Regions from separate parts of the Homo sapiens genome. Here region 2 is linked to region 1. The links come from fine-mapping of genetic effects on gene expression. A gene starts in region 1. The other region holds a variant in brackets. All regions are shown on one strand. Distances are from middle to middle.

Evidence for each region. PIP is the estimated chance that this variant, and not a neighbour inherited with it, causes the effect.
Region 2: its variant is the best candidate, but not a certain one, in a credible set for the expression of SYT9 in coronary artery (GTEx, PIP 0.63).

Annotation. Positions count from the first base shown.
Region 1 is chr11:7,244,746-7,261,180 of GRCh38, reverse strand. It overlaps SYT9 (synaptotagmin 9), which reads right to left and starts at 9,277. Exons shown (of 7, transcript NM_175733.4): 1 at 8,850-9,277. The coding sequence starts at 8,994. RefSeq lists a silencer at 9,245-9,384.
Region 2 is chr11:7,376,681-7,393,115 of GRCh38, reverse strand. All of the region lies in intron 3 of SYT9 (synaptotagmin 9), which reads right to left. Among named protein-coding and RNA genes, the nearest start is that of SYT9-AS1, 81 kb to the left of the region's middle. The variant A/C (reference allele first, on the strand shown) is at 7,150.

The DNA of each region.
Region 1 (16,435 bases):
GTGGGGACGAGGAGGCAGATATTAGAAATGGACAGCCTGTGACCCACTTAAGGGCATTCAATTCAATTATTTTTTAAAATTATGCCTGTTAATTGGCAGACCCTGTACACACAATAAAGAACTATCTCTACAGCGTGGCTTGGTGGGCACTAGGCAGGCCTGCCATGCGTATTCCCTCTTGGGCCCTATAACTTCAGAGAAAACAGACTGTGCACATCCACAGACTGGATAGTTACAATGCAGCTGAACACACTGCTTTTTCATTACTAAATAACCAGGCAAGGAAGCAAGATGTCACTGTTGGCATAGTCAGGAATTATATCTGGAATCCAGATGTTTGAACCAGATGACTAAACTTGCTAAAGGCAGTATTTACAACTATTCAAGGTAATTACAGTTGGGTTTCAGGGTGATATGTTGGGGATCTAAAATGGGTAAACTTCCATTCATTGATTCCAATCTGTTAGGACCTTACCTTGGACAGAAAGAACATATTTGCCAGTAACCTGAGTATATTTTCCATAAGGAACCAGGAAGACTTCAGAAGCTGCATTCATGGAACTGAAATCTCCTGGTGTGCTTTGCTTTGGGCTTATGATATAAATTGTACTTCTTTCAAGATTTCTGTGTCAGAGTGCTCCAGTTAGTCCTCAGTGGGTTTTTGGCAATGGCATACAGGGGCTTTCGTGATCTGATTTGACCATTGTTTACTAGAGCAGATCCATCTCTCAACATTGCCAACACACACTCAACTTACTGTTACCCAGGATCCATCCTCTTCTGTGTTAGGACCTTTGTAAATTCCTAGAATGCTCTTCCCACCAACTAGTTCCAGACAAACTCTTCTGCCCAAGAATAGACTTCTGTAGGAAGCCTCTGCAGATCCACTCAAGTCAGCTAATTACTTCTCTCCTCTTTTTTCTGTACTGTATCCAGTAGATATCTCCCTTCTTGATTTTATTAATTGCCATTATTGTTTTATGTCAATTCCATAGAGGCAGTAAGCATGTCTAATGTATCTTTGAATGACAGATGCCCAACCTTGTACATAGCACTTAAGGGGCCCTCAATAAATGTTTTTGGAATTTAACTTAATTATAACTAGAAAAGATTGATCAATTCAACGTGGTTAAGTAACAGCTGCACAAGGGTAGGGTGGGGTAGGTTGGAGTGGGAAAGAAAACATAAAGAAAAAGAGATTCAAATTATAACAACTTTTTCATATTTCATATAAATAAATGCAGCATTTTGCATTGGAAAAGAGTGTTACAACGAATCCCTATTTATTGAACCACCCCTGAAATTTCAAAAGACACTTTAATATAATGGGTTGATTATAGTCAGACAACCTGAGCTCATTCACTATACAATATTCCTTCTGTGAGCTAATTTGACAGAATATTTACATTCTAATTAATGGAAATTGGTAGAAAAAAACATTAAGATTCTCAAAAAATAAACTGGTACATGATAGAGAATGTGGTAGAGAACACAAAAAATTCACTTAAGAGTAAATATAAGAAGGTTCAAAACAAAAAATATTCAGTCTTACCAACAAAAAAAACACAAATTGAAACAACTAAGCAGCTGTTTAAACCATGTTAAATTAGCAACCTTTTGTTCACATTATACACCTAATGCTAGCGGATTTACTGTTGACATGTAGCAGGACTAACTAACATAGATCTACCAGAAAGCAATTAGGGCTCACTGTTTATAATTTATCATGAAAAAATTTTCCCAAAAGGAAACAGGGGACTATAAATACAAGACATTATTCACACTAAAAAAAAATTACAAGCTAGAATAGCCTCAAAAGAATGGTTAAATAAAAAAGGTATACCCATTCTTGGAATATACATAGTCATCACAACAATAATAATTACGTACTAATAAGTGTTAACAATGGGAAAATTATAATAATAGAAATAATGGCTAGTATTTATTGAGCATTTACTACGTGTAATTACTATGAGCATATACCAGGTACTATGGTATTTCGCATGCATTGCGAGATAGGTACTAGTATAGGGTTGTCAGCATCACAAATAAAAATATAGGATGCCCAGTTCTACTTCAATTTCAGATAAACAACAGATGATTGTTTTGTATAATTATGTGCCATGCAATATTCCCTGTCGTTTATCTGAAATTCAAATTGAACTGGCAGCCTGTATTTTATCTGGGTAACTAGTAACCCAGATACTAGTAATACATTTTACTGATGAGAAAATGAGGACACAGAGGTTAAATAACTTGTCCAGGAACACACAGCTAATAAGAGGTAATAAAATGCTAAGTTTACAAAAAAGTAGAAAGTAAATTTAGCCTACAAATAATTACAAATGGTAAAACATATACATGTTTGTGGACCACGGCTGAAAGGAAACATGGGCAGGTGATACTACCAACAACATCAATTTATTGATCATTTATTTGAGCATTTACTCTGGGCACAATGTTACAGCAATCTTCCACTCCCATTTTATAGATGAATAAAATGAAGAGTTAAATATTTTACTCAAGGTCACTAAGGTAGTAAGTGCAGTCAGATTCTAACTCCAAAGTCCTTGCTTATTCCACTTTGTCATCTTGATGTCCTAGAAGATTTTTTTTTCTTTCAAGTGCAGTTCTATCAATGTTGATTTAAAGTTTTTGTGTGATAAAATACATGTGCAAGGCCATATGAAGATTTCAAAGAGATCTGCAAAGCCTGGTCCTCAGGATTTGATGTGGTCTAAAGCCCTTCCTAGAGCCCACCAAATAAACATTTGAAAGAAAAGGAAGTCGTGATGCACATTTATTGCTCCAAGATTGCAGTGAAAACTGAAAACTTCTCCACAAATGGTGATTTTATTCAAACTTCATTCAGAAAATAGAAATACATACTCCATACTTGTCCTTTTAAAAGTGAGATTGCTCCCCCATTTATGCCTCTCACTAAGCTCCTCCACTTTCTCTATACACTTTGGAGTGTGAACTTGTTAGTTCCCTCAAGTCAACCTGTTAGGAAGAGATTATGAATGTTTTTAAGCCAACCATATGGGAAATTGCACTTGCAGCACAAACATAAAAGTGCCTCAATGCTACTTCAGTGAAAGCAACATCTATGCTCTATACATAATAGAAAATTTGAGGATGATTTCCTTTAGGTGTCAGTTTAATTTTTCCTTGAGAGTTTATCCCACATCAAAAAGTTTGTGCTTTTGATTGTTTATTTTGAAAGAGGCAGCTGGCCATAGGGCTGCCTGTGATGCCTTTACTACAATTTGCTTTTGTTTTCCCCTCTTGATAATTACCTCATGACTAAACCACTCACTGGTCCATGTAGAGGAGTCCCGCAGAGATGAAAACACACTTGTTTAAATAAAATATTTATGAAGGAGCCCTGAAATGTCACCGAAGTAAATGCAAATTAGATCTTCACATATTGTGCATCCAATATGCCACTCATTCCTTAGAAGACTCTTTTTCCTGATTGCAATTAACATTAATTTAAAAAAATTAATCCCATTGTGCATAATCACACCAAGGTCTATTCATAAACATCCAGTGTTTCAAGACTGATTCTCTTTTGACTACCTTAGAAAAATTTGAATCAAGGCTAATATTTAATCTTGATGATTATTTTGGAGATTTTTTTCATAGAAACTATATTTAATTATTATTTTACATGTACATTTTCTAATAAGTGACTTCATTATAATTTAACATAGGGTGACATTTGTGAAGGTTCTATATTCTGACCTTTTAATGACACACTATTTAGACAAGATTTTTCTTGATTTGTTTGTTTTTTCCCCTCTCAGATTGGTGGACATAATAGAGCCTTATGATATGTTCAATGAGCCCTTAAAAGAAAAATGTAGGATAACGTTGGGAAAAGAAAGTTAAGAATCAGTTGATATGGGCACTAGCTGTACAGGGTAACAGTCAAGGTTCCTAGTTTTTGATACTATCTTTCCTAATTTTGCAAGAAACAAATGTGAGCTGAGCTGAGAAGGGTTAGGCGGATGCATTCTTTGCCCAATGGTCTCAAAGGTTGTTCTCTACTTGGCTGCACATTAGAATCAATAGATGAACTTTAAAAATACTGATACCAGGCCCATTTCCCAGAGACTGTGATTTAAAACTGGTCTAGGGTGCAGCCCAGTCATTGGTAGTTTTTGTTGTTGCTGTTGTTTGTTTTTTCTTTGTTTGTTTGTTCCAGCTCCCTAAGTATTCCTAATGTGCAGCCAAAGTTGAAAACCATGACCTAGAAAAAGCTTTTCTTGAATAGAGTAATATTTACATGGAGAGAAGAATCACTAATCATGAGTCTTAAGGCTCTGCTTCATACTCTGACCTGCTGAACCTTTTCTAAACATTGGGTACAGACACAGAGAACATGCAGAAAAATCTCCAGAATATGGAGTTGGAACATGAATGGAAAACCAGTATCCTGGATAACAGAATTCATAATCAAAAATACTAAGCTGAATCTTTACAACTACATAGAATGTGACCTACACTTAGGGATTAAATCCATCATACAAGTACAGAAGAGAGAAAGTAGGTCTAAGGGTGGCTCTTATGAAAAACACCTAGAAAATTTTCATTGACAATAACTCCTCAGTTTTCAGTACATGTGATGTGACTACCTAAGAAGCTACTTTCACTTAGACCCAATTCTTCTTTTAAATGGACTCCATGGCCCTGGGCTAGTTTACTTCTCTGGACTTCAGTTTACTCATATATATCAATCACTTTTAGCCATGGTTCTTGAACTTTAATGTGCCTACAACTCTCACCTGAGGATCCTGTTAATATACAGATTCATATTCAGTGGGTCTGGGACATAACTGAGATCTCCAATTCTAACAAGCTCCCAGCAGCTGCTGCTGCTGCTGGAACACAGATAAGTGCTTAAAAGACTTGTGAGGACTAGTGAAATGACCTACATAAAGTGCTTGGCACAGACATGGTTGGCACCCTACAGAAGAAAAGACTTAAAAAGAAAATGATAAAAACATGTTTAAGACCTAGTCATTACATGATCCAATCCTCCTTTCTGTTCCTTGGAAAGAGTGGATCTAGATAAGTTAGGCTAGTTTACCTCCTAATAGCCAAAGGTGTATGATGGAGAAGAGAGATAAGACTAATGCTTTTTGACCAAAAAAAGTATAATCAAGATCCATGGGTAGAAATTTAAGAGACCTTTTAATTCCCTACAAGGAAAACCTTCTAACAATACATACTGTTCTATAACCAATTAATCTTCTTGACAGCGAAGTCTCCAGTTAAAAAATACGAGCATAGAGCAATTGACATTAAAGAGGATAGTCATACCTCAGGTCACTGTTCAACTGTAAAACAGCTTGGCTATCTAAAGAGGCATCACACACTTAATGTGTTACAAAAAGTTAAAATAAAATAAAAAATAAACCTCATGATTTCCCTCCTCACCCCTACCTTCTTCCTGAAGACTTCTACTTGTACATGGAATTTTTTAGGTCAAAAAGCCTTTGAAGCATCCTTAATTGCCCTTCTCTCACCTTTCACATCTCTTCCTTCAATAAATACTTGCGGCTGTACCTGCAAATTGCATTCATAATCCAATTACTTCTCATCACCTCCATTACCACTATCCCTGTTGAAGTCACTATCACCTCTGTCTGGATTTCTGAAATAGCTTCCTAAGTGGTTTCTCTGACTTCACCTTTGCTCTTCAACATAGCAGTCAAAGTGTTGTCACTTCTCTGCTCAGCACCTTCTAATGGCTTCCTATCTCATTCAGAGTAAAAACCAAAGTCTTTATAATGGTTTACAAGACTCTGCATGATCCACCCTCTCTAACTCTTGACCATACACGTCTTATCACTCTCCATCTGTTTCACACCTCTCCAGCCACCTCTGAAGTCACCATTTCTAGAATCATATCAATAATGCTACCACTTCAGGGCCTTTGCGCTTGCTGTTCCCTCTGCCTTAAAGGCTAGTCTCTGAGGCCTGCAAGTTTATGTCCCACATCATTAACATATAAAACACCATAAAGGCAACCAACAGAGCATTCTAATTGCTTTCTATGGACAAAAGTGCTCACACTCAGCACTTTCCTTTCCACAAGTTGGTACAGATGACAGACTGGGTGAGGCACTTCAGTTCCAACTGTGACTTAGGCTTATTTTTTTAAACCACAATTGCATCAAGTCCTCTGTGAACACCAAGTCAGGGAAATCTGGGTGCGGTACTCCCCCAACAGGGCACTATAACTACCTGGACAAAAAAGAACCTTTCTGATGGCTCAGGCCCGCTGGTCTGTGCCCTAGTCTTTCCACACCTCTGAAAAAATGAGTAAATTTCCTAGATGCAGGGTCACTTTGCTGTCCACAGGAAATTATATCTTTTTTCTCCTTTTATAACCAAAGTCCTTAGTTCAGCTTGAGAAAACCTAGCTATCACAGGGTGGCCGTGAATGGACAATAACAGAGAAAGCTGGGACATGGCATTCAGGTGGATTCCTTTCCAGAAAAAGAAGTCATCCATTTACCGAGATGACTCTCTCTAGGAACCCATGTCTCAGGGCTGCTGTGCATGGTTGTTCTGGTTCACACTATCAACAGCAGGGACATTATTCACACGGCGTTGTGTGGTGCAGCTTTTCTACTACTCAGCTTTTAGGGTTCCGAGATTAAAGACACTCTTGCTTCAGAGGGATGAAGACAAATGCATCTGATGTAAGAATTAATGTCGGCAAGGCAAGGAAGGAGGGAAATGAAGGGAGATTTGGAAATGAAGGGAGAAGTGTCCTGAAGGAGAGGGTGCACTTTGGATGTAATCTTTGGCCTCATTTCCTCTCACCTTGCACTCGAAAACCCCCACCCCTGTCCTCATGAGCTGGCTACTTTCCAACAAAAACCAAAGAGCCACAGGGGCATGGGGCTACTTCAAAACCCTTGTGTCCTAGTTTAAGAAAGCAGAGCACTGCTATCAGGAACTCAGAGCAGCAAGGTCGACTCCTATCTCTAGCTATTCCTCCGCCAAGGAATCAGATTTCCTCTTGTAAGAAGCCTACTTAGTGACTCTTTCTCAGGGGTTGCCTGGTGTAGGGGCTGAAGAGAATCTGAGAACACAGGATCCAGCTCCCGGATTAAAAGGAGTAGAAGCAGAAAACTGGCCAAAAAGATGTGATTCAGAGATAGGCCTCATCCATCTTCTCTTGTAAAGCCAAAGACAACTGCTTATGTGGGATAACAAGGAGAACTCGTGGTCTGGTCACAGGCAAGGAAGTGAGATGTTTCAATACTAATACTTGCTTTGGGCAAAGCATGCAAAATAATTGTCTTGCTTCTGCTGCTTAAGGACGAACTTCCCCGACTTAAGACATCTTCCTGGGACTCCAGCTTGTGAGATAAGGGACTGTGGTTTATTCAGCACATCACATCCAGCAATGAGATGCACATAGGCTGGACATTAAACCTCCCTGGAAACCACTGGGATCAGTATTTCTCTACCCAATTATCCACTTTGAAGTAATATATCAATGATCATTCAATAAACTTAGTTAATATAACCACCGGCAATGGAAAACAATATTTTTTTCTTTTTCAATAGGAAAAAAAAGCCTCTGGTAGGGAAAATCTGATATAAACTTTAAAATTTTAGCAGATGACTTCACCCCACACGACCATCTTGAATATATCAAGGATATGCTATTTAAGTCTGGCTCAGTGTGACACTCTTTATAAATCAAATAATTCTTTAATTTATCTTTTGGATAAATGGATTTTTATATAATAAATTGTTTTCAATTCGTACATCATAATTTGCAAGGCAATAGCTCATTTCCAATATTTATACATAGCAATATCAAGAGAAAGGCCATTTTCTCATCCCATTTTTAACAATCCAACCACAATATGCTGTTTTGGTAAGTACTTAGGTTGGGAGAATATTCGAGAAAACTATTTCTCCAGGTGAGAAACATCTCAAGCAAACATTGGAAGGAATGCATTTTCCAGTAGCCAGTAACGGATGAGACGACCTGGGAGACCCAGGGACCTCAGGAAAAGCAAATGGCTCCACTAAAACTCCCTCCTCCAACCTTAATTGGTCAAATGCCAAAATAAATGAACTTTCCAAAGTTAAGAGCTTTGCAACTTTCACTAGGAGTAACTACAGGTGCACAAGCCAGGACCGACGAGTCTACGAACCCCATCGTGGCCGGCGGTAGTCGCTGGTCGAGCCTAGCGCCCAGGCCCAGGCCACCTCCATGCCGTGCGACCCGCCGGGAACGGGTTCAGGCCCGTCTGCCCAAGGCCAGAAGCACCCTGTCCCCGGCCCAACGCCGGATCGCGTCCCGCCCTTCTCACCCCATACCAAGGAAAGGAACTAGACGCTTGGGAGAAAGGATGAGCAGCACCCGGTGGGATTCGGCCCCAACCCGGGGCCGTCCCCAACTCCCAACTTCCCAGAGTTTCCTTCGGCCTCGTCCCCCTTCCCACGGCTCCGAGGCCGCCGCGGCCTCCCCTCGCTCTGAGTGCAGATAGCCCGGGAAGTGGAGAGCGTAGCTCGGAGCTAGGGAGCCGCCCCCAGGAGCCTTGGCGATGGGAGCGCAGGTGGCGGGCGTGGTCCCTCCAACCCTGCCCTAGCCGACCCGGAGTCGGCCTCCGTGCAGTAGCCACCGCCCGGGTCCCCGCCTGGTTACAGCATCAGGCCACAGTGCGCTGGTTCTTGATCACTCTCCTGGCTCGGTGGCCGCCCCCCGCCCTCTCCCAGTCCGCGTCGCTGTTCTGCCTCAGGCCCCGGTGCGGCCCCAAGTCCCAGCCCAGGGCCCTTAGGTCCCTCCAGGCGGCGGTGGCGGCACTCACCTGGGTCGCGGAGCCGGGGTCTGGCACGGTCCCGCAGGTGGTAAATGAAATCCTGGCAGCTGTCGTGCTCCAGGGCCCCACGGGCACAGAGCTCGGCCAGCAGCTGCAGCGCCTGGTGACAGAGCGCGTCCCTGGCCCCGGGCATCGCCCCCCCGCATCCTCGGACCGCGCCGGGCAGGCGGGCGCAGGAGACAGCCCTCCGCCTGCCAGCTCAGAGCCGCCGCCTCCGGGCCGTCCGCGCTCACCGCCAGGGACCTGCCGAGAAACGGTGCGAGCCTGAGCCCGAGCCCCAGACCCAGCCGGCCCGGCCTCCCACCGGTTGCATGCAGCTCTTCGCCAGCCGGTCGGTCAGGCTTTCTCTCTCTCCCGCCCGGTCCCTCCGTCCCTCCCCAGACACCGAGGAGAGGCGGTGCCGCACAGCCCAGAGCGCCTCTCTGCTTGCGCTCCGCCCGCTACTCGCGGCCGCCGGGGGGCGGGGCCAGGTCAGGAGTGCGCGCCGCAGGGTAGGATAGCGGCGGCCCCAGACCGGGGACCTGGGGTACTCCCCGGCTCCTGGCCGAGCGCGAGACTTGGCTTGGGACCTCGCGCCCAGAGCGGCCGCGCCCTGGCTTGGGGAGTGTGAGTGAGTGCGCGCTCCGGGCGCTTTCGCTACTCCACCCCTCATCCCTGATGCAAACCAAGCACCCGCTCCCACCGCCGAGTGTGTCCAAAGCACGTTCTTGGATGCCTAGTGCGAAGGTTACAATCTGGGCACACCCGCCAGATGCGCAGAACCGAGTCCCTGCTTCGAACTTGGAAAGAGCCGCCTGGGTTTGAACCATGGGCCTATGGGTGTCAGATGCCCAAATGCAGGGTTTGGGTCCAAGATTCGCCAACAAAGGAAGGATTTCCCAAGCACAGGCCCTTTTCGACCACTGTGGTGATTTGGATGGAGAAGGTGGAGGCTCTAGGTCAGAACTAAGATCAAATAAATAAACGATTCCTGGGAAAGACCCTGAGGCTTACCTGGGCTTCGTGGGTCCCTTAGTTTTCTAAGCAACCGTTTGGAAATCCAAACATTGCCAAAGTGTCTTCAGCACCCAAGGAGGAGTATCACAGAATCTTGGAGAGTTGGAAGGAACCTCAGGGCACCTCTCATCCACCCATCTTTTCAGCCTTTCAAGCAGTAAAGCCTAGAAATAACCACGAAGTACTCTGGGTGTGTGTGTGTGTGTGTGTGTGTGTGTGTGTGTCACTGTGCCACAAGCCTTTTAGGTACATAATCTCATTTAATTCTGTACATAGCCCAACAAGGTCTGTGTAATTGTTATCCTCATTTTACCAATGAGAAACTGGGGCCTGGGGACTCACAAAGGTGTTACTTGCTCAAATTCATACATGATGAAGGTAGCTTTGATTTTCTCTCTTTCTTTTTTCTTTTTTCCTTCTTTTTCTTTTGTCTTTTTTGTAATACTGGTGTTCAGGCCCCCACTCTAGAGCAATTAGAGTAGGATCTCTAGAACTGGTAACTATCATTCTTAGCCATGAGGTTGTGCCGTCTCTACGGACATATCACAACAATTCATATTTGCACAGAAAGATAATTTGGGATCCTATAGAATGCTCACGCAACAGGCAACCTTTGAAATCCTGCTGTGAATGGTACTAGGGTTTCAGGGAACTTACATGGGAATAGCAGAGAAAATGCAAAGTTGTAAAGGTAAAGATGCCTCCAGAGAGTTGCAAAGAGACAAACAGAGGGAGGAGAAACCAGCTTTAAGGGAGCCTGTAGGGGAGGTTGAGCAGATGCTGTTTCTTCAAAGGGGGGAACCCCTAGAGAAGAAGAAAAAGGCCATGAACAGAGAAGGTGACACCAGAGATAGTGTGATGCTGGGGGGGGGTGGCGGGGGGGACATATAGTAATGGTGAGAAGGTATGTGTGTTGAAGCACATGGAAATATTACCCTAATGCCATCATGTCAGAGAGGAACTGAAAGCAACAAGTTCAGTTAAAAAATGACTTTGATAAACCAGGCAAGAGATGATGAAGGCCTAAACCAGGCCAAAGGCATTAGCTGATTGCTAGAAACATCCAAATTTGAAAAACATTTCAAGTATTAAGTGACAAGATTGCAACCAATGGAATAAGAAAGAAGTGAAAGGCACAAACGTTTCAAAACGTTACCTGGGTCATATGTGCTCACACCCTAATAACACTTAGAAATGCAAGCCTAGAGTTTAGGAGAGAGTGAAGACTGGCAATCATCATTGGAAAGGTAGAAACTGAGTTGCCACATGGGATGGTTCCTTCAAGAAAGAAGAGTTGAAGAAATGAAAGAGGAGATTGGAAGGTAGCAATGAGAACAGGAGGAAAGATTGTACAGAGGGGAGTCATAGGGATCACGGGAGGAGGAGTGTTTGGTAGAGGAGCGAGCAACATCAACTGTAAACTTTCAAATATAGTTTAAAGAGAAAAAACTAAAAAGTGTCCTTTGGATAAAGTAGACAGTAAGACATTCAAGATTTAGACAGACTAGTTACTATGCAACCAACCTTGTGCAAGTTAACATTTTTGTGCCTAGGGTTTCTCATCTTATCTCAAAGATAACGTGTATCTTTGGGCTGTTACAAAGATTACATAAAGCAATATATTTAAGTGCTTGTAATAGTGCTGCCACATAGTATGGGCTCAACCAATATGTGTTTTTGCTGTTTCTGTTATGTTTCTACTACAATGTACGAGGTGCTAAACACACTTTCTTAATCTATTACTTACAACATCCCAAAGTGGTTGATGCTATATTTCCTATTTTACAGGCAAAGAAAGTAAAATCAGGTGGTTAAACAATTTGTTCAAGGACAAATTGGTAGACTGTTTCCAAAGACAGCCATAGCTATCCCTCCAATTCCATGTGTCCTTTTGGAGTGTGATTTTACCACTCTTCCCATCAAGAAGTCAAGTCTGTTCCCCTCTGCTTGAATTTGGGCCTGCCTTGTGACTCACTTTATTCAACAGAATGTGTAGAAGTGAAATTCTGAGCTGAGTCTAGACTTGAAAAGATCTTGCAACTTTTACAGGATATCTTGCTGGAGAGGGGTCCAGAAGAATGAGAAACAATGTGGAGAAAGAATATCATACAGAAGGGAAGTGAGATACTGCTATAGAGTGAACTGTAAATTCTTATGTTGAAGCCCTAATTCCCGATGTCACTGTATTTGGAGATAGGACTTAATTAAGAGTAAATGAGGTCATAAAGGTAGAGCCCTGATCCAATAGGATTAGTTTCCTTATAAGAATCATCAAACCAGCTGGCTGTAAGTATTTGGGTTTATTTCTGGGTTCTCTATTCTGTTCCATTGGTCTGTATACCTATTTTTATACAACTACCATGCTGTTTTGGTGACTATGGTCTTATAGTATAGTTTGAAATCAGGTAATGTGATGCCTCCAGATTTGCTCTTTTTGCTTAGTCTTGCTTTGGCTATGTGGGCTCTTTTTTGGTTCCATATGAATTTTAGAATTGTTTTTTGTAATTTTATGAAGAATGATGGTGGTATTTTGATGGGAATTGTGTTGAATTTGTAGATTGCTTTTGGCAGTATAGTCATTTTCACAATATTAATTCTATCCATCTGTGAGCATGGGACATGTTTCCATTTGTTTGTGTCATCTCTGATCTCTTTCAGCAGTGTTTTGCAGTCTTCCTTGTAGAGGTCTTTCACCTCCTTGTTTAGGTATATTCCTAAGTATTTTATTTGGAAAGGACACCCTTTTCAACAAATGGTGCTGCAATAATTGGCTAGCCACATGTAGGAGAATGAAACTGGATCCTCATCTCTCACCTTATACAAAAATCAACTCAAGATGGATTAAGGACTTAAATCTAAGAGCTGAAACTATAAAAATTCTGGAAGATAACATTGTAAAAACTCTTCTAGACATTGGCTTAGGCAAGGATTTCGTGACCAAGAACCCAAAAACAAATGCAATAAAAACAAAGATAGATACATTTCTGGGACTTAATTAAACTAAAGAGCTTTTGCACAGGAAAAAAAAAACAGCAGAGTAAACAGACAACTCACAGAGTGGGAGAAAAATCTTCACAATCTATACATCTGACAAAGGACTAATATCCAGAATCTACAACGAACTCAAACAAATCAACACGAAAAAAACAAACAATCCCATCAAAAAGTGGGATAAGGACATGGATAGACAATTCTCAAAAGAAGATATACAAATGGCCAACAAACATGAAAAAATGGTCAACATACTAATGAACAGGGAAATTGAAATCAAAAGCACAATGCGATACCACCTTACTCCTGCAAGAATGACCATAATCAAAAAATCAAAAAACAGTAGATGTTGGTGTGGATGCAGTGAACAAGGAACAATTCTACATTGCTGATGGGAATGTAAACTGGTACAACCACTATGGAAAACAGTGTGGAGATGCCTTAAAGAACTAAAAGTAGAACTACCATTTGATGCAGCTGTCCCACTACTGGGTATCTACCCAGAGCAAAAGAGGTCATTATACGAAAAAGATACTTGCACATGTATGTATATAGCAGCACAATTCACAATTGCAAAAACACAGAACCGACCCAAATGTCCATCAATCAATGAGTGGATAAAGAAACTGTGATATATATATATATATACACACATATATACGTATATATACATATGTATATATATATATCACGTATATATACACGTATATATACACGTATATATGTATATATACGTATATATACACATATATATGTATATGTGTATATATGTGTATATACATGTATACGTGTATATATATGTATATATGTGTGTATATATGTATATATGTGTATATATATGTGTGTGTATATATATATGTATATATATATGATGGAATACTACTCAGCCATAAAAAGGAATGAATTAACGGCATTCATAGTGACCTGGATGAGACTGGAGGCTATTATTCTAAGTGGAGTAACTCAGGAATGGAAAACCAAACATCTTATGTTCTCACTCACAAGCAGAGCTAAGCTGTGAGGATGCAAAGACATAAGAATGACACAATGGACTTTGGGGACTCAGGGGAAAGGGTGGGAAGGGGGCAGGAGATAAAAGACTTCAAATAGGGTGCAGCGTATAGTGCTTGGGTGATGGATGCACCAATATCTCACAAATCATCTCTAAAGAATTTAATCATGTAACCAAACACCACCTGTTCCCCAATAACCTATAGAAATAAAAAATAATTTTTAAAAAGAGTCATCAAAGAGTTTGCTTTCTCTCTGCCATGTGAGGACACAGTGAGAAGGCAGCTCTCTGCAAGCCAGGAAGAAAGCCCTCACTAGAAATGGAATTGGCTGCAACCTTGAGCTTGGACTTCCCAGACTTCTGACTGTGAGAAAATAAATTTCTATTGTTTAAGCCACCCAGTATATGCTATTTTGTTACAGTAGCCCTGGAAGACTAAAATAGATGCCTCAGTCAACAGCCAGCCCAAGACCTCACACATGTGAGTGAGGCCATGGACCTCTCGAACTTGGACCTTCCAGCCCACAAATGAGCACAGCAGACAATAAGTGAAGCAGAGGTGAACCATCCCCATTTACCAAATTTCTCACCCACAAAATCATGAGCAATAAAATGGTGGTTGTTTTAAGTCATAGAGTTTGGGAGCAACCTTTTAATGCAGCAGTAGACATCTGAAATAGGCAAAAAACTGGTAAATGATAGAAACAGGACTGGAATCCACATCTTTGTGGCTCCAAAGCCTCTGTTCTTCTGCAATTATAGTAGAGTGGTGAGGGTGGAACCAGCTGAACACAGGATTAAAAAGTACATGGAAATTGAAGAAGTAGAGTTAGCTGAAATATGTTACCTTTCCCCAACTATTTGTTCTTTCATTCATTGAACAAATATGTATTCTTCTATGATTCAGAAAGCATGACAGAGGAAGTCCCCTGTGACTCAGGAAGCCTTCCAGGTCCTGGGTAATATATAGAGAAATAAACAATGATCCTTGCTCTCTAAGGCAGTGCTTCTCAGTCTTGTACTTGTCGTGGCATAGATAGAAAGTGAACTTTTTACAGCACATGGGGGTAAGGGACTAGGCCACTGGTGGCCAGCAGGGACTGTGGCAGAAGGAATCAAAGTCTCAGCCCAGGTATTACCCATTCTGTGGCACATCAAGCTTCCCTGGTGCCCTGGTTAGGAAGTTTTGCTGTTTAGACCTACCAAGTAGAAGTAAAAGTAAATCTTTTGAGAGAAGGACAAAGAGAAGATGGTAACTGAAAAAAAAAAGTGCATAGAAGAAAAGCTGTTTGAAGATAGGAGCGACTTCAGAATGTTTTTATCAATGTTTCCCAAAGTAAGGTTCACTTGCCTTCTTTTCTGAAATTGCCTGGATTTCTTATGAAAATGCTGGTTCCTCGGATTCACTCAGACCTACACAATTATTTCGTAAAGAGCATCCCAGATGCTATGGTTGGACAAAAATACATGTTGAAATTTAATTGCCATTTTAACAGTATTAAAAGGTAGAATGTTGATGAGATGATTAGGCCATGAGGGCTCCACTTGCATGGGTAGAATTATGCTGTTATAAAAGGGTGAGTTTGGCCCCCTTTTGTCTCTTTGCCCTTCCACCATCTACGATGTGATGATACAGTAAGAAGGCCCTTGCCAGATGCCAGTGCCTTGATCTTAGACTTCCCAGACTCCAGAATTATAAGACAATAAATGTTTTTTCTTTTTAAATTACCTAATCTCAGGTATCCTGTTACAGCAGTACAAACAGAATAAGACACTGGGTAATGCTTCTGAACAATGAAATTTGAGAACCTCCAGTTTATATGCTGACGAAAAAAGCCTTTGGTGGGTGACGGAATAGAACCCTGACTCAAAAAACAAAAACAAAAACAAAAAAAAAAGAGAGAAAAGAAAAGAAAAAGGCCTTTGGAAAAAGATCTTTGAAGTCACCTACAATGTCCCTGAATGATATACATTAATGATTATAACTAATCATTATTAAGCATTTGTTATATACCATCATGCACTTGATATATGTTGTTGCATTTAATCCTGGCCACCCAGCAAGGCACACATTATGTTTCCATTTTACATTTACAGATGAGGAAACAAGAACAGAGAAGTTTAGTAACTTCTCCATGGAACTTCTCCAGCTTATTGGAGACAGCCAGCATTCAAATTCAAATTTGTCTGGCTCCAGAGCCTGTGTTTTCCATGCCACACTGCTGCTCCAAGTCACGTCCAGAACACAAATATCCGGTATCTTTATCCACTTTTTGTGTGACATTGCTCAGGTTCTCTCATCATCTTATCTGTCTTCTACGTGTGCTGCAATTGGTCAAAATCCTTTCTGAAATAGAGTTCCTGAGCTGAGCCCAGCACTCCTTCACCCTTTAGCATCAACTTCCTGCTCTCTCTGTGCCTCAGGCTTCTGAGTTGCTGCTTGGGTTACAGCATCTCAACATGCCATGGATGAAATCCCATAAATCTTTCATGCTGCTCTTAGACCACATCCTTACCCCTGTTCCTGTGAGCTAGATTCCGTACTTTGGGAAATGGTGTGGGATTCTTAACAGCA
Region 2 (16,435 bases), 130 kb before region 1:
CCAGAGTGATCAGACAAGAGAAATAAATAAAAGACATCTAAATAGGAAAAGAGGAAGTCAAATTATCTCTCTTTGCTGACAGTATGATTCTATACCTAGAAAACCCTTAAGTCTCCACCAAAGTCTCCTAGACCTGATAAACAACTTCAGTAAAGTTTCAGGATAAAAAATCAACATATTTAAGTTAGTAGCATTTCTGTACAACAATAATGTTCAAGCTGAGCATGGAATCAATAATGTAATCCCATTTGTAATACACACACACACAAAAAATACCTAGGGATACATCTAATGAAGGAAATGAAAAATCTCTGCAAGAAGAACTACAAAAAACTACTGAAAGAAATCATAGGCAGTACAAATGAAAAAATATTCCATGCTCATGGATTGGAGGAATCACTATTGTTAAAATGTCCATATGGCCCAAAGCAATCTATAGATTCAGTGCTCTTCTTATCAAACTAGCAATGTCATTTTTCACAGAATTAGAAAAAGCTATTCTAAAATTCATATGAAACAAAAAATAAAAAAAACAGCCTGAATAGCAAAAGCAATCCTAAGCAAAGAGCAAAGCCAGAGGCATCACTTTACTTTAAACTATACTACAAAGCTACAGTAACCAAAAGAATATGGTACTGGTAGAACAATAGACATACAGACCATTGCAACAGATTAGAGAACCAGTAAATAAAGCCACACAGCTACAACCAACTGATCTACAATACTGACAAAAATAAGCAATGGCAAAAAGATTCCTTATTGAATAAATGCTGTCAGAATAACTTGACAACCATATGCAGAAGAAAAAAAGTGGACCCCTATCTATCATAATATACAAAAATTAACTCAAAATATATTAAAGATTTAATGTAAGGCCTCAAACTATAAAAATCTTAGAAGAAAACTTAGGAAATACCATTGTGGATATCAGCCTAAGCAAATAATGTATGACTAAGTCCTCAAAAGCAATTGCAAGAAAAGCAAAAATTGACAAGTAGAACCAAATTAAAATAAACAGCTTCTGTACAGCAAAAGAAACTATCAGTAAATAACATACAGAATGAGAGAAAATATTCAGAAATTATGCATCTAAATTAAGGACTAATATACAGAATCTATAAGGAAATTAAGCAAATCAACAAGAAAAAAAAACCTCATTAGAAAGTGGACAAAGGACATGAACAGACATTATTATTTTTTGAGACAGAGTCTCACTCTGTCACCCAGGCTGGAGTTCAATGGCATAATCATAGCTCACTGCAGCCTCGACCTCCTGGGCTCAAGTGATCCTCCCACCTCAGGTTCCCGAGTAGCTGGGACTACAGGCGTATGCCACCACGCCTAGCTAGGTTTTTTTTTTTTTTTTTTTTTTTTTTTTTTAGAGATGGGGTTTTACCATGTTGTCCATGCTGGTCTCAAACTCCTGGGCTCAAGTCACCTGACTACCTTGGCCTTCGAAAGTGCTGGGATTACAGGCATGCACCACCATGCCTGGCCTATGAACAGATACTTCTCAAAATAAGACATATAAGCATTCAATAAACATAATTAAAAATGCTCAATGAAAACCACAATGCAAATGAAAACCACAATGAGATACTCTCTCACACTAATCAGAATTACTTTTATTAAAAAGTCAAAAAATAGCAGATGTTGGTAAGGCTGCAGAGAAAAGGGAATGCTTATACACTGTTGGTTGCAATCTAAATTAGTTCAGCCAGTGTAGAAAGCAGTTTGATGATTTCTCAAAGAACTAAAAATAGAACTACCATCTGACCTGGCAATCTCACTTATGGGTATATACCCAAAGGAAAATACATCATTCTACCAAAAAGAGGGGTGCACTTGTATGTTCACTGCAACACTTCACAATAATAAAGACATGGAATCAACCTAGGTGCCCATCAGTGGTGGACAGGATAAAGAAAATATGGTACATATACATCATGGAATAGAACAAAATCATGTCCTTACAGAAACACAAATGCCGTTGGAGGTCATTATTCTAACTGAATTAATGCAGAAACAGAAAACCAATATTATGTATTCTCACTTATAAGTGGTGGCTAAATTTTGGGTGCACATGGACATAGACATGGGGACAAGAGATACTACGGACTCCAAACGGAGGGAGGAAGGGAGGGGTGCAAGGGCCGAAAAGCTTCCTATTGGACACTATGTGCACTATCTCCATGACAGGACCAATAGAAGCCCAAACCTCAGCATCAGACAACACACCCTCGTAACAAACCTGCACATGTACCCCCGATATCCAAACTAAAAACGGAAATTAAAAAATTTTTGAGAAGATGGATTTTTGCAAAGGACTATATCTTTGTCTTGTAGCTTTATTGCCTTGAGTTCAGAGAATATGCCCTGATGGTTTCAACCACTTTTAAATTCCATTCTATTCTATTATTTGTGCTCAAATGCACTTGGAAACAATGTATGCTTTATTCATAGGGGACAAATTTCTATTTGTCAATTAAATGAAGCTTGTTAACTTTATTTCCAAATCTTCCTCTAGAATTTATTATGCTTCTTTATTTTACATATGGTTTCTTACTATTCCATTATGTTTCACAGCCAAATTATTAATAAACATTTAAACCATGTTTAAAATGTTCTCATTTCTGTAACTGCTACCGTTTCTTAAAACCATCATCTATCCTTCCAAAATGAAAACCATGACACATGGCTCATTTTGCTTGAGTATGTCATTAAGGGCTTCTAAAAAATTCCAGTGAGTTTCACAGGTAGTTAAAATAATATTTATACACAGTGGAATACTATGCAGCTGTAAAAAAGGATGAGTTCATGTCCTTTTCAGGGACATGGATGAAGCTGGAAACCACCACTATTGCAAGGACAGAAAACCAAACACCGCATGTTCTCACTCATAAGTGGGAGTTGAACAATGAGAACACATGGATACAGGGTGGGGAACATCACACACTGGGGCCTGTTGGGAGGTGGGGAGCTGGGGGAGGGATAGCAGTAGGAGAAATACCTAATGTAAATGACGAGTTGATGGGTGCGGCAAACCCACATGGCACACGTATACCTGTGTAACAAACCTGCACGTTGTGCACATGTATCCTAGAACTTAAAGTATAATAAAAATTAGTATTTATTGTGCTCTAATTCTTAACAGAAAGTTGGCTGGGCATAGAGTTTAGGTTAAAATTATTGTATTTCAGAATCATTTTACATCACAAAGTCTTCTTGTATTTCATGTTTCAGTTGAAATGTTTGATGCCATTCTTATGTAGGTTTTTTTTTCCTCCCAAGCAGGTTTTAAGATTGTCTTTTCATACTTTTACTTTGTACTTATGCCTTCTGAAATTTCTCCAAAAGTTATCTGGATAACTTGTTTTCACTGATCTCGCTTGGTCCTTAGTGATAGATGTTAATTAGAATACTTTCTTCTCGCTTTAGTCTCTTTTTATTCAGTGATGAGTTGATATATATTTTTATTTTGTACCTTGTCTTTTGTGATGTTGGTTTGCCTAAGATTGTAGGACATTCATAATGTCCTACAATATAAATTAATTGCATTTATAACTGAATGGTTAAAGCAAAAAGTCTTCTATTGCTTATTCCTTTTGTAGTTCATCTACTCTCATTTTATGGGGGAGTTCTCAAGAGATAATGGGGGTAGCATCTTATGTTTTTCACCTGATGGATTTAACTGGAAGTCCTCGTGAATTATTCTTTAATACTACTTGTATATTTATATCAGCAAACTTATTAAATATTGGCTTTACAGAAGGTCACACAAGGTGGGCAAGAAATTAATACACTTTTGATACCCCAGTCTCCTCAATATTTTTTTAGTACCATTGTGTCAGGGGTCCCCAGTACCATCCTCAGGTTCAATAATTCACTAGAAGGACTCACAGGACCCAGAAATGCTGTTATATTCAGAGTTACAGTTTTCTGTATTGGCCCAAGTTCTGTCATATAAAGAACTCTTAGGCAGAATATTCTAAGGGTTTAGAAATTATCTCTCAGGAACCAGTAAAGAGCTGGTACTTTCTTTAGAATGTGCAGGTTCAAGCACACCAAGCCTAGTGACTTAACCCTTTATTAAACAACCACACAATGTCCTCACTTCAATTTCCTTTTCACACATATTTTCCTGGACTGGGAAGGGGAGATGTGGTTGTGGTCCATATGCTTGTGAACCCAACCACCACACATTTTCACCCGGAGACCAAAGCTGATGTCATGAAAAACATTCTGGAAGGAGGTTAGTTAACAGTAGGGCTGGCAAAGATGTTAGATCAGATGAGGAATGATCATAACGCAATTAAACTCGAAATCTATAATGAAAAGATAACTAGAATGTTTCCATACATTTGAAAATATTTCTAAATAAAACATGGGTCAAAATAAATAACAGGATGAAAAACAGATATACATTGGACTCTATGATAATAAAAATAATAAATTTCAAAACATTTAAAATGCTAAAAAATTATATTGAGAAATATTTTAGCTTTAAATGCATAAAATAGCCCAAAATAAGGCCAATTATCAGTGATCAAATCATTTATCTAAAGAACTAGAACATAACAACAAATTAAGTAGAATGAAGGAAATAAATACAAGAACAGAAAATAATGAATAGAAAATAAGTATATTTAGGGAAGATTAACGAGCCAAAAGTTAGCTTTTGAAAGGCAAATAAAAATAGCCCTCTTTCAAGACAGAAAAAGGAAAGGGGCAGGAGAGAAAAAAAGGCACGAATAACCATGTCATGGTTGAAAATACAACACCACTTCACATCCTAAAGGCATTGAAAGATAAAAGAATTTTACAAACAACTTTATACCCATAGATTTTAAAATTTGGATTAAATGGACTAGTTCTTTAAAACACAAAACTCATAAACTAGATATGAGAAATACTGACTCTGAATGTCTATGTCTCATTAAGTAAACTGAATCCGTAATTAAAAACCTTACCATAAAGAAAATTTCAGGTGCAGTTGGGTTCACTGGTGAATTCTATTAAACATTTAGGGAAGAAGTAAACGCAATATGTGCAAATATTTCCAAAAATACACAAGGAGGGAATATTCCCCAATTCATAGTTTTTAGACATAATATTTTGGGTACTAAAAGCTGAAAAGGCCATTACAAGAAAGGCAAAATTACAGTTCAATCTCAGTTATGACTTGAGATTTTAATAAATTAGACAAAATGTAAAACTGAATCCAGAAAAATACAATGAATTACAAACATACATGTTTTCACGTTTACATGGTTGATTAAACATATGAAATTTAAACAACTTAACTGCCCATAAGAGAATAAAGAGATAACTTATAGTTGATCTAAATGAATGTAGAAAATGTGATGAAATCAGGCATCCAAACCAGATATGGAAAGGGAATTTTCTTAAAGAGAGCATCTAAAAACAAGACTACAGCAATGGTGTATTTAATAGTGAAATGTTGAAAGCTTTTTAATTAATGTTAGGAATAAGGTACATCATCTCTTCTATTGAACATTGTATTTGAGGTCTTAGTGAAATAAGGAATGAAAAAGAAGGAAAAGGTACAAAGTTTTGGCACAAAGAATTCATTCTGTCATTATCGTTAGACGACATGATATGCAAAATAAATTCCGACAACTACAGATAAATTATTAAAATTTATAAGCATGTTTACTGATGATGATTAATAGAGTGGATACAAGCTCAGGAAACAAAAATAAATTGCCTTTTTTATTTTATTTTCAAGAAGCACATTTTATTTTATTATTTTTGTTTAGGGTTATTCCTCATAGTTCTTTTTTTTTATTATACTTTAAGTTTTAGGGTACATGTGCACAATGGGCAGGTTAGTTACATATGCATACTTGTACCATGTTGGTATGCTGCACCCATTAACTCGTCATTTAACATTAGGTATATCTCCTAATGCTATCCCTCCCCGCTTCTATCCCCCCACCACACCCCACAACAGGCCCTGGTGTGTGATGTTCCCCTTCTTGTGTCCATGTGTTCTCATTGTTCAATTCCAACCTATGAGTGAGAACACGCAGTGTTTGGTTTTTTGTCCTTGCGATAGTTTGCTGAGAATGATGGTTTACAGCTTCATCCATGTCCCTACAAAGGACATGAACTCATCATTTTTTATGGCTGCATAGTATTCCATGGTGTATATGTGCCACATTTTCTTAATCCAGTCTATCATTGTTGGACATGTGGATTGGTTCCAAGTCTTTGCTATTGTGAATAGTGCCGCAATAAACATACGTGTACATGTGTCTTTACAGCAGCATGATTTATAATCCTTTGGGTATATACCCAGTAATGGGATTGCTGGGTCAAATGGTATTTCTAGTTCAAGATCCCTAAGGAATCGCCACACTGACTTCCACAATGGTTGAACTAGTTTACAGTCCCACCAACAGTGTAAAAGTGTTCCTATTTCTCCACATCCTCTCCAGCACCTGTTGTTTCCTGACATTTTAATGATCGCCATTCTAACTGGTGTGAGCTGGTATCTCATAGTGGTTTTGATTTGCATTTCTGTGATGGCCAGTGATGATGAGCATATTTTCATGTGTCTTTTGGCTGCATAAATGTCTTCTTTTGAGAAGTGTCTGTTCATATCCTTCACCCACTTTTTGATGGGGTTGTTTTTTTTTTTCTTGTAAATTTGTTCGAGTTCATTGTAGATTCTGGATATTAGCCCTTTGTCAGATGAGTAGATTGCAAAAATTTTCTCCCATTCTGTAGGTTGACTGTTCACTCTGATGGTAGTTTCTTTTGCTGTGCAGAAGCTCTTTAGTTTAATTAGATCCTATTTGTCAATTTTGGCTTTTGTTGCCATTTCTTTTGGTGTTTTAGACATGAAGTCCCTGCCCATGCCTATGTACTGAATGGCATTGCCTAGGTTTTCTTCCAGGGTTTAAATTGCTTTTTTATATACCAGAAAAAAAACAGGTTAAACAAATAAAAATAGAAAAAACCTCACACCTGCCTTAAAAATATGAAATACCTTGTAATACACTTACCAAAAAGTCCAATAGTTTTCTGCAGAAAAAGATAAAAATATTATTGAGCAAAGTTAAGGAAAGTCTAAATAAATAGAGCAATACTCCATGTTTATGAGTTGGAAGACTCAATATTGTG[A/C]AGATATTTCCCAGACTTATCTACAGGCTAAATATAATTACGGTCAGATTCCAACTTGACAGACTGATTCTAATTTTTACTTGGACATGCAAAGTGCCAAGAATAACCAAAATTCTTTTGATAAAAAGCAAAGTAGAAACATTTGCTCTCCTGGATAGGAAAACTTATGAGAATGCAACTGAACTAGTGTCCAGGATGGACTGGACTAGTGTAGCATTTGTGCAGGGTAAATAAACCAGTGGAGCTGCACAGAGAGCCCAGAAACTGACTCATGCATATAGATATTTGCTTTATGTATTGATTTTTTTAAACTTTTTTTAAGGTTCAGGGGTACATGTGCAGGTTTGTTATATAGGTAAATTGTGTATCATGGGGATTTGGTATACAGATTATCTTGTCACCCAGGTAATAGGCATAGTACCCAGCAGGCAGTTTTTCAATCTGATTCTTTTCATTTGCCTTCCTACACCACTGCCAGGCATGCTCTTTGTCCTAAAATGTTGTCCTCTATAGAAAGAAATGAAACCTGATGTATTCACTAAGAGACTTAAATGTCTGACAGAGTTTGGGATGAATTAGCTGCATGGACACACACGCACACACACACACACACACACACACACACAGAGCAAACAAAAACAATATAGTTCATTCCTCTATTCTTCATTCAACAAACATTTACAGAAAGCAATTATTTGTACCAGAGTACCTGGTACTCTGGGTTCTGGGAATCTGTCAGTGAACCAAACAGGCAAAAATTATTTACTCTCATGGAGCTTATATTTCTTGTGTGTGAAGACAGACAATGAGCAAAATAAATTATACACACATGCACACATATACACACATATACAGAAGTATACATATAATACACATATGTAATGCAATGGGAAGAAATAAGCAGGAAAGGGAGTTAAGTAGTGGGGAGTTAAATAATATATTAAATAGGGAGGTCAGGAAAGGCATTATGAGAGAGTGACTTTTGAATAAGGACCTGGAGAAATGAGGTAAGGAAGCAAGCCATGCAGTTAATTGGGGAAAATTCCAAACAGAGGAGCAAGCACAGATGCCCTGAGGTGAGAGAGTAGCCTTCTGCATTTGAGGAAGGGCAAGGCAGGTGTAGCTGGAGTATAGTGAGAAACAAAGAGATTGAAAATGATGAGGTCAGAGAGGCTGTGGTGGATCAGATCATGTAAACTATGAAAGGATTTTTGCTTGTGCTCTGAGTGGGAATGGAATTCATTACAAAGATTGAAGTAGAAAAGTAGCACAACACAGCTCAAGTAGCACTATTACAGGATAGCCCACAGCAGTGTTAAGAATAGTCTGGGGAGATCAGGGCCATCAGTTAGAAGGTTACTTCAGTGAACCTGGTGAGAGGTGACATGGCTTGTTCCAAAGAAAGCAGTGCAGGTGGTGAGAGGTCATCACATTTTGAAGATAAAGCAATAGGATTTTCTAATGGAAGAAGTGATAGAGAAGAGTCAAGGACAATTCCAGAATTTTTTGCCTGAGCAAGTGGAGAGATGGAATTGCCATTAACACCCATTTCCAAGTGGAGGGGGAGAAGTACTGGACTATGGGAGAGATCAAGAACTCAGTTTCACATACATTAATTGTGAGATGCCTATTAGACATCCAAATGCAGATGCTGAGTAGCCAATTAGATATAAGAGAATGGAAATCAGGGGAAGATTCAGGTTAGAGATACAAATTACCAACTCCTGGGAGGAAAAAAGAATGTAACCACAGAGACATACATGGTTCAGCTATACATCATGTTTACATAACAATAATGATACAAACATGAATAATTATCTCCACAAGTGTATAACGATTTTGAGAAAATGGGAGAGGGAAGTAAGGTGTGAGGGTGTGTGTGTGTGTGTGTGTGTGTGTGTGTGGCTAGTGAATTTAAGAGCTAAATCTTCATCTTCCATAATAAAATTCAATAGAAATATAAAATTAAAAATCAAGTCAAATCTAACATTTTATATAAAATATGGAAGCATATTTAAAAAGAAACAAAGTAGCTGAAAGTATTTCTGAAGACAGGGAATTGAGGTTAGAAGTCTAACCCAAAAGATGACTTCACTTGTATTTAAAAACTCGTGCAGCCTAGACATATAGTGCAAGGGACTGAAGCTGAATTCAAGTCTTGACCCCTCATTTAATCATTCTGCAACGTGAAATAAACTATGTAATTTCTCAGTTTCTCAATTTTCTGTTCGCATTCTCCTCCTTTGGAAAAGGAAACTAATATCTACAGCATAAGGTTGATAAAAAGGCTAAATGAGAAAATGTCTTTATGCAGTAAATACTGAACATGACGTAGCTGTTATTACACTTGATTACACATTTGTCACTTCCACCAGTCTGGGTACTTTTCAAGGGGAAGGCCCACTTACCCACCTCTCCCCAGTGACTGCAACTTAGGAGTGGCCCAGTCCCTGTTTCTTTCACTAATGAATTGATGTGCAAATGAAGGAAAGTTTCGAGGGTCCTTGGATATGTGTTGCACCCTCAGTAGCCCAGCTTCCTGGGGTCTTTGGATCAAATGTCCAGTGAGCCACCGGGCTCTCTGGGGACATCTGGTTTCCCTTCCCTCCTTCCCAGCCACCATATTTCCTAGTACTACTGGCTAACTGAGAAATCCTGTACTTACAGAGCCTCTTTCTAAAGCAAAAACCATTGTGAGAGGCAACAGCAAGAAACCATTTATTTAGCAAGGGGAGAGGAAATCTTAATTGTAACATTTCTCTCAAGTGTCCTTAATCTTCACCTGTAATAATCACACTGATGGTCCAAGCCGGGTCCACCTATAACATGGACGACGTTAATAGTTTGATCATCCTATTTTCTCAGAAATGCCAACTCTATTCCTGATATTTTCCCCAGACATGACAAGATTGGCAAAAAGTCCTTCTTAAGCGATGGATCCTACTAATAATTAGCATTCACTGTTAAAGTAACTGTTGACTGCACTTTACTTATAGATATTAACATGATTAATTGAATTGGAAGTGTGCCTGGAGGATGACAATTTCTGAGCTGGTGCTGGGGCTCCGGCAAGCTCCGCAGCCTCACAGGGCCATGGGATGGGAAGGGTCTGGGATCAGCCCACTCCTTTTCTCTTTCTGAATTACTCCCTCAAATGCTTCCAGGTCTAATTACCTAGGACTAGCCCCAATTTGAAAATAATTTTCTTTGGCCAATGATATGTTCAGCTAGGAATGGACAAGATAACAACATCACATTATGTGCAAAGCTCCTTACGGTCAACGAAAAGCATTCACATCGCCATCATATCTGATCTTCTCCAGTTCCCTGGTTTAACATGCCATTTATATGTGAATGACTCCAACATTTATATCTCTTCCATGCACCATAGACTCATATATACAAGTGTTTTCTTATTTAGTGATCAAATAAGCAACTCACTATTAATATTTTGAAAATGGAGCTAATTTTTCCTCCCTTGCTCACAGCCTTCCTACCTAAGTTGCCTGAAGGCAAGATGAATCTCAGTTTGGAAAAAAAAAATTCCTCTCAGTGGCTAAAGCTAAAAATCTGGTAGTCATCATATCTCTATTGCCCCTCTTCTCTCAGCTTCCCACATCTGCAAGTCATGACATTTATACTTCCAAAAATATCTAGAATTTGTCCAATTTTCTCCTTTTCCATAGTGCTACCCTATCTTAAGATACCACCATCTCTCTCACATGCGCTACTGTAGAACAATGAAGGCAAAAGGAGAAGTGAGACCATTGGGCAGGATGGCTGCTATGACAAGCTAATATCATAGGATCCTATGTCATACACGAGTTGCACAGCATAGAAGGGAGCCTCAGTTGCTTGTTTACATATCCTCATGCCTACACTGCAACATGACTCTGAGTCTGGGCTTCCCAGTCTGGGCTGATGCACTGACACACAGGTGAGTGCCCACAAAAGGCTTCAGAAAAGGCTTGGTTCTGCTTGTGGAGATGATGAGACATTATAGTTCCTTCCTTCCCCACATGATTGGGATTCCCCTCCTCCAAAGGCTTCTGGAGTACCAGTGGCTGGAAGGCTCCTATCTCATATCCACCACGTAGGAAGCTGCTTGTATCCTAGAGCTGCAGTGGCAGATGGGATTGATAATAACAATAACACAAAGAAGAATTTAATGACAGTAAGTGTAATAATTGCTCAATCTCAGTAACCTCTGTGCCTTCCTGTAAAAAAAGAGACAGCTCTAGCTTGTCTTGAATGACATGATGTCCAGCTTTGCACTGCTGGGATTTGAGTCTTTCACATTTCAAAACACGTCCCAAACAGTCAGGGAAGGTGTGGTACATTTGGCAGACACTCTCTTCTGTGACAAACTTAGCCAACAATATCTCACTGAGGGCTTACCAGGTACTCTGCTTTTCTCAGTACTAGAGGCAACTGGCTTCTTTCTGCTCCATAGGGGCCCACTGTCTAGGATGACAGGGCAGAGCTTCACCACAGGGCAGTGGCCAAGGACCCTAACTGGCAGAGAGGGAAACCATATAGGTAAATGTAAAGAGCTCAGTCCTTTTCTTGGAAAAGTAAGCTCAGTGCTCATCTCATGCATGCTACTGGGATTGATTAAAAAGTATGGTTTCTGAACCCCTAAAAATCATTGTGTCCCAATAGATTCATTAAAAGCAGATGATACCAGACCAATATCACCTCCTTTTTTTTAACTTAGGCTATTGGACTCACATATTAGGGAGCTGTTGTAGGCACAGTAAATGTGGACCTTGACACAACATCTGGTAAGCTCTCTCCTGATACCCTTATGGATGATCTGGATAGATTTAGACCAGATGATAGTAAAATGAGGTGAATTTATAATCTAGTTTGACAACCATAGCTAAAGCATGCCACGAATGATTCAACAACCTAAGTATTATCCAGTTCTGTAATTTTATCAATTGTTTAGAAGGAGAAATAGAATTTCGGTATGGCACACTAGGCATAATAAGTACACTGGAGTACAGAATCAAGATCCATAAAGATTCTGACAGATAGGTAAGATCAATAAGGCCTAACAATATAAATGTATCAAGATAAATTATCTGAGGGCCTAAAAAGTCAATGATACAACATCTGAAGTAGATGCAACCTAATGCATGTGAAAATAAAAGGCTTTATGGTTTAGTCTTATTTTGAATCAAAATGCGATATGGCTACCAGAAACTCATTTTGCTTTAGGCTGTATCAGTAGAGGTATAGTCTGGACAGAAAGGGATGTGCACCAGCCATAACCCACTAGAGACATTAATTCTTTTCTGAATATCTTAATTTTATTTTTTTATTTTCTGTTTTTATTTTTTGCTGTGCTACTTATATATTTTTTATTTTTGTAAATTTTGGTGGGTGCAAAGTAGGTATATATTCTTATGGGGTGCCTGAGAGGTTTTGATACAGGAATGCAATGTGAAATAAGCACATCATGGAAAATGAGGTATCCATCCCCTCAAATAAGGTATCCATCCCCTTATCCTTTGAGTCACAAATAATCCAATTATACTTTTTAAGTTATTTAAAAATGTACATTAAGTTATTGACTATAGTCACCCTATGGTGCTATCGAATAGTAGGTCTTATTCATTCTAATTTTTTTGTGCCCATTACCCATCCCCACACTCCCCCAGCCCCTCACTACCCTTCCCACCTTTCCACCCTTCCACTTTCTATCTCCATGAGTTCAAGTATTTTGATTTTTAGATCCCACAAATAAGAACATATGATGTTTGTCTTTCTGTGCCTGGCTTAATTCACTGAACATAATGATCCCCAGTTCCATCTGTGTTGTTGCAAATGACAGGATCTCATTCCTTTTTATGGCTGAGTAGTACTCCATTGTGTATATGTACCACATTTTCTTTATCCATTCATCTCTCGATAGACACTTAGGTTGTTTCCAAATCTTAGCTATTATAAACAGTGCTGCAACAAACATAAGAGTGCAGATATCTCTTTAATATTTTGAGTTACTTTCTTTTGGGTATATACCCAGCAGTGGGACTGCTGGATCATATGGTAGCTCAATTTTTAGCTTTTTGAAGAACCTCCAAACTGCTCTCCATAGTGGTTATACTAACTTACATTCCCATCAACAGTGCACAAGCATTCCCTTTTCTCCACATCCTTGCCAGCATTTGTTATTGCCTGCCTTTTGGATGGTAATCTCAATTTTAGAGATATGTAAGCAGATGAAAGACAGTTGAGTAACCACCATGAGAGAGGGTCAGGATTACATAAGGAGTAATGAGGAACTATTAAGATTTAAATTAAACATTAAAGAAACACAAGATTCCTGTCAGCACAAATTTGGAGGGGTGTCAGTCACACAGAAGAGAAACTAAACTTCTTCATGATTCCAATGATTAGAACGAAGACCAACAAGGAGAAGACACAAGAAGATTTAGAATATTCTTCTCTATCACAGTCTAAAACCACAATCTGTTTGGAGTATGCATTGTATCTGAGGGGAAGATACGGAGACTGAGAGACCAGAAATGATGAGGGCTGTTGAATAATAATGCTTAATTCAGCATCCTAGGAACACATGTACTTTAAAAGGGGATATGGGAAAAAGGAGGTGAAGCCTTTCAATCCTTGGTGCACCTGACACAGGAATTTGGGGTACTGGAAACCTCTTATTTTTTCTAACATGCTTTCTTAATAGATACTTTGAAATTCAAACATGATTTTTAAAACTCTGCCTATTTCCCCAGGGAGCATGTCTAGTCAAGGAGAGTCCTTGGCTAAAACAAAGACAGCAGTTTTCAAAGTTAAAGGGCTACAGAAAGGCTTTAGCATTTAATTTGATGTTAAGAACCTATTCTGAAAAGACTTTTTTATTTTCATTTTTTTACAAATCTACCAATACTCAATAAGAAAAAACCCAAAAGTAACTGGAGATGAAAAATTGTTTTTTATTTAAAAGCTGTGGGAATATCAAAGCATCCTTAGAACTGAGTGTTGTTTGCTAGCTCTGACTGCCACAGTGTGTTTTATCGGCTTTTGAAGAAAAGAACACATTAAGATGAGCTGGAAATAATTTTGAATTGACCTTGCATTCTCAGCATCTTCGTCATCCTGAAATTTCCCATCAAAACTAAGAATTCCTGCAGTTTATGGGAGACGGGATGATGAGATTCTCTAGTAAAGATGCCTTCTAAAGAGAAGCATGGCAGCAAGTGAATTAAGCCAACATTCTCAGTAGTATGAACAATCATAAAGAAAAAGGCAATATTTTATTCTACCATGGGTGGAGACTTGCTCCATGGATACTCATAGGACATAGGATTTTTTTTCTTTTTTTTTTTTAAATGTTTCCCTGGAGAGGAGCACTATGCACCTCCCTCATCCCTCTTCCATCTCCATCAACTGTTCCTCCATCACAATTACCATGTAACTCTTAGAGCTTAGTACTTGGGTCACCAAGTCATGTTCATTCTAACTGTAAAATGTGTGCTGATTACAACTCTTTTCCTTCAGTCTCTGAAAGATTACTCAGGAGCAATTTACCTCTTCCAATGCATCCTCTGTGTAAACACAGATCTGATTATTTCACTCCTAGCTTAAATCGTTCCATGGATATTGGGTGCTCTTAGGTTAAATTCCAAATTCCTTAGCATATTATATAAAAAATGACTTTTCCAGCAGTTCTTTCTCCTAACATACTCAATTCTCCAATCAGGCTAAACTATTCTTAACCCCCACACCCACCTTCTGACTCATCGCAAACCTTCTCTTTCATTTCTTTGTGTGCTGTTTCTTCCTGAATAACTCCTGCTCACTTCTCTGCTGGTAATTTTTTTTTTTTTTGTATCTTTGAAGACCCAGACCTCTCTGTGCAATCTTCAGGGCCTCTCCTAGCCTGTGCTCTCTGCTTTGGTAATTCTCTGCCTATGTTCCTATTACCACATGGAATTTGATATATTTGCCACTCTGAGATGCTGAAGGCAGGAGCTATATCTTCTTCCTTTTGGCACTTTTACCTTGGGCTATGGCCTTTTTATAGAGAAGAATCCAGAGTCAGAGGTTAATTAACTTGTCCAAGCTCACATAGCTAGTTAGTGCTGAAGCCATGCCCCAACCAGGCAGTCTGACTACAGAGCCTATACCATTCCCAAGTGGGGAGCCCATGCATAGACTAAGAAGCTCTTAGTGGCTAGTAAAGAGGGAAGTGGCCATATTCTCTTCTCTTGTGTGGCGGAGATATGAGGGAAACTGGAGGAGCTGGACTGGGAATTAAGTGTCTCCAGATTCTTCCCTTTTCCATGCAATGTTTCCACCCTTGTGGAAGGGCCAAGAGATGGCCTTGCCTCTCACCTTTTATCAGCAGGAACTTATTTTTGCGTTTGAAGCTGGTGGGAAAAAGAAAAAAAAATAAAGAAAGAGAAGCTACCTTGACTGAATCCTGCTTGTGAAATAGGGCAAATGATGCTTTAGTAAAAGAGGATCTGCCTTTCCTCCAAGCACAGGCATTGAAGAACACTTCCCTCTGGGTCCAGTGCAATTTCCTAAAACTCTTGAGGGAAACAAAAGGCTTTGTTCCAATAAAAGGTAGCTTAGGAATAATCAAGACTTCTCAGATGTGCTTCAAATAGAGACAATAATAATTCTCTCTCACTCTCTTTCTAGTTAAATAAACTGATATATGTAAAGTGTTTAGCACAGTGTCTGAAATACATATGTTAACTAATTCTCTGGGTTGTACCCTCACCTCCTAGAACAGTGCCTGGCATAGAGTGGGTCCATAATTCATGAACTCAGTACATCAATGGATGAATAGCAGTAGTCTCTACAGGAAGGGAACAATAGGTTGATCAGGGACAGTTGACATCAGGGACTTCTCTCCACCACTCAACTCTCATTCAAAGATACTCTTATGTTGTTATCTACATACTAGATAAAGGAGATACAAACATGCTAGAGGCATTTTCTATGTTGTGGACATAATTACACTGGAAAGAAAACAAATAAGATATCCTTTTTAAATGGAATGGCTTTGGGCTGCAGGGAATGATCACATATCATCAGAGAGGTTGAACAGCTTGCCCATGGTCACAAAGTTCACCAGTGTCAAAAATCAGTCTGGAAGATACTTTCCATCCCTGTATGCTCTCTCTGACCCTAAATCTTCATTCAAAGGTGGACATTTTTAGAGTGTGTTAAAAATTCCTATGAGAATTTTAGAACAAGCCTCCCATTTCAATTCCCGGGATGTAGCAGAGGTCTGCAGTTTGCTCTACCCAATGCT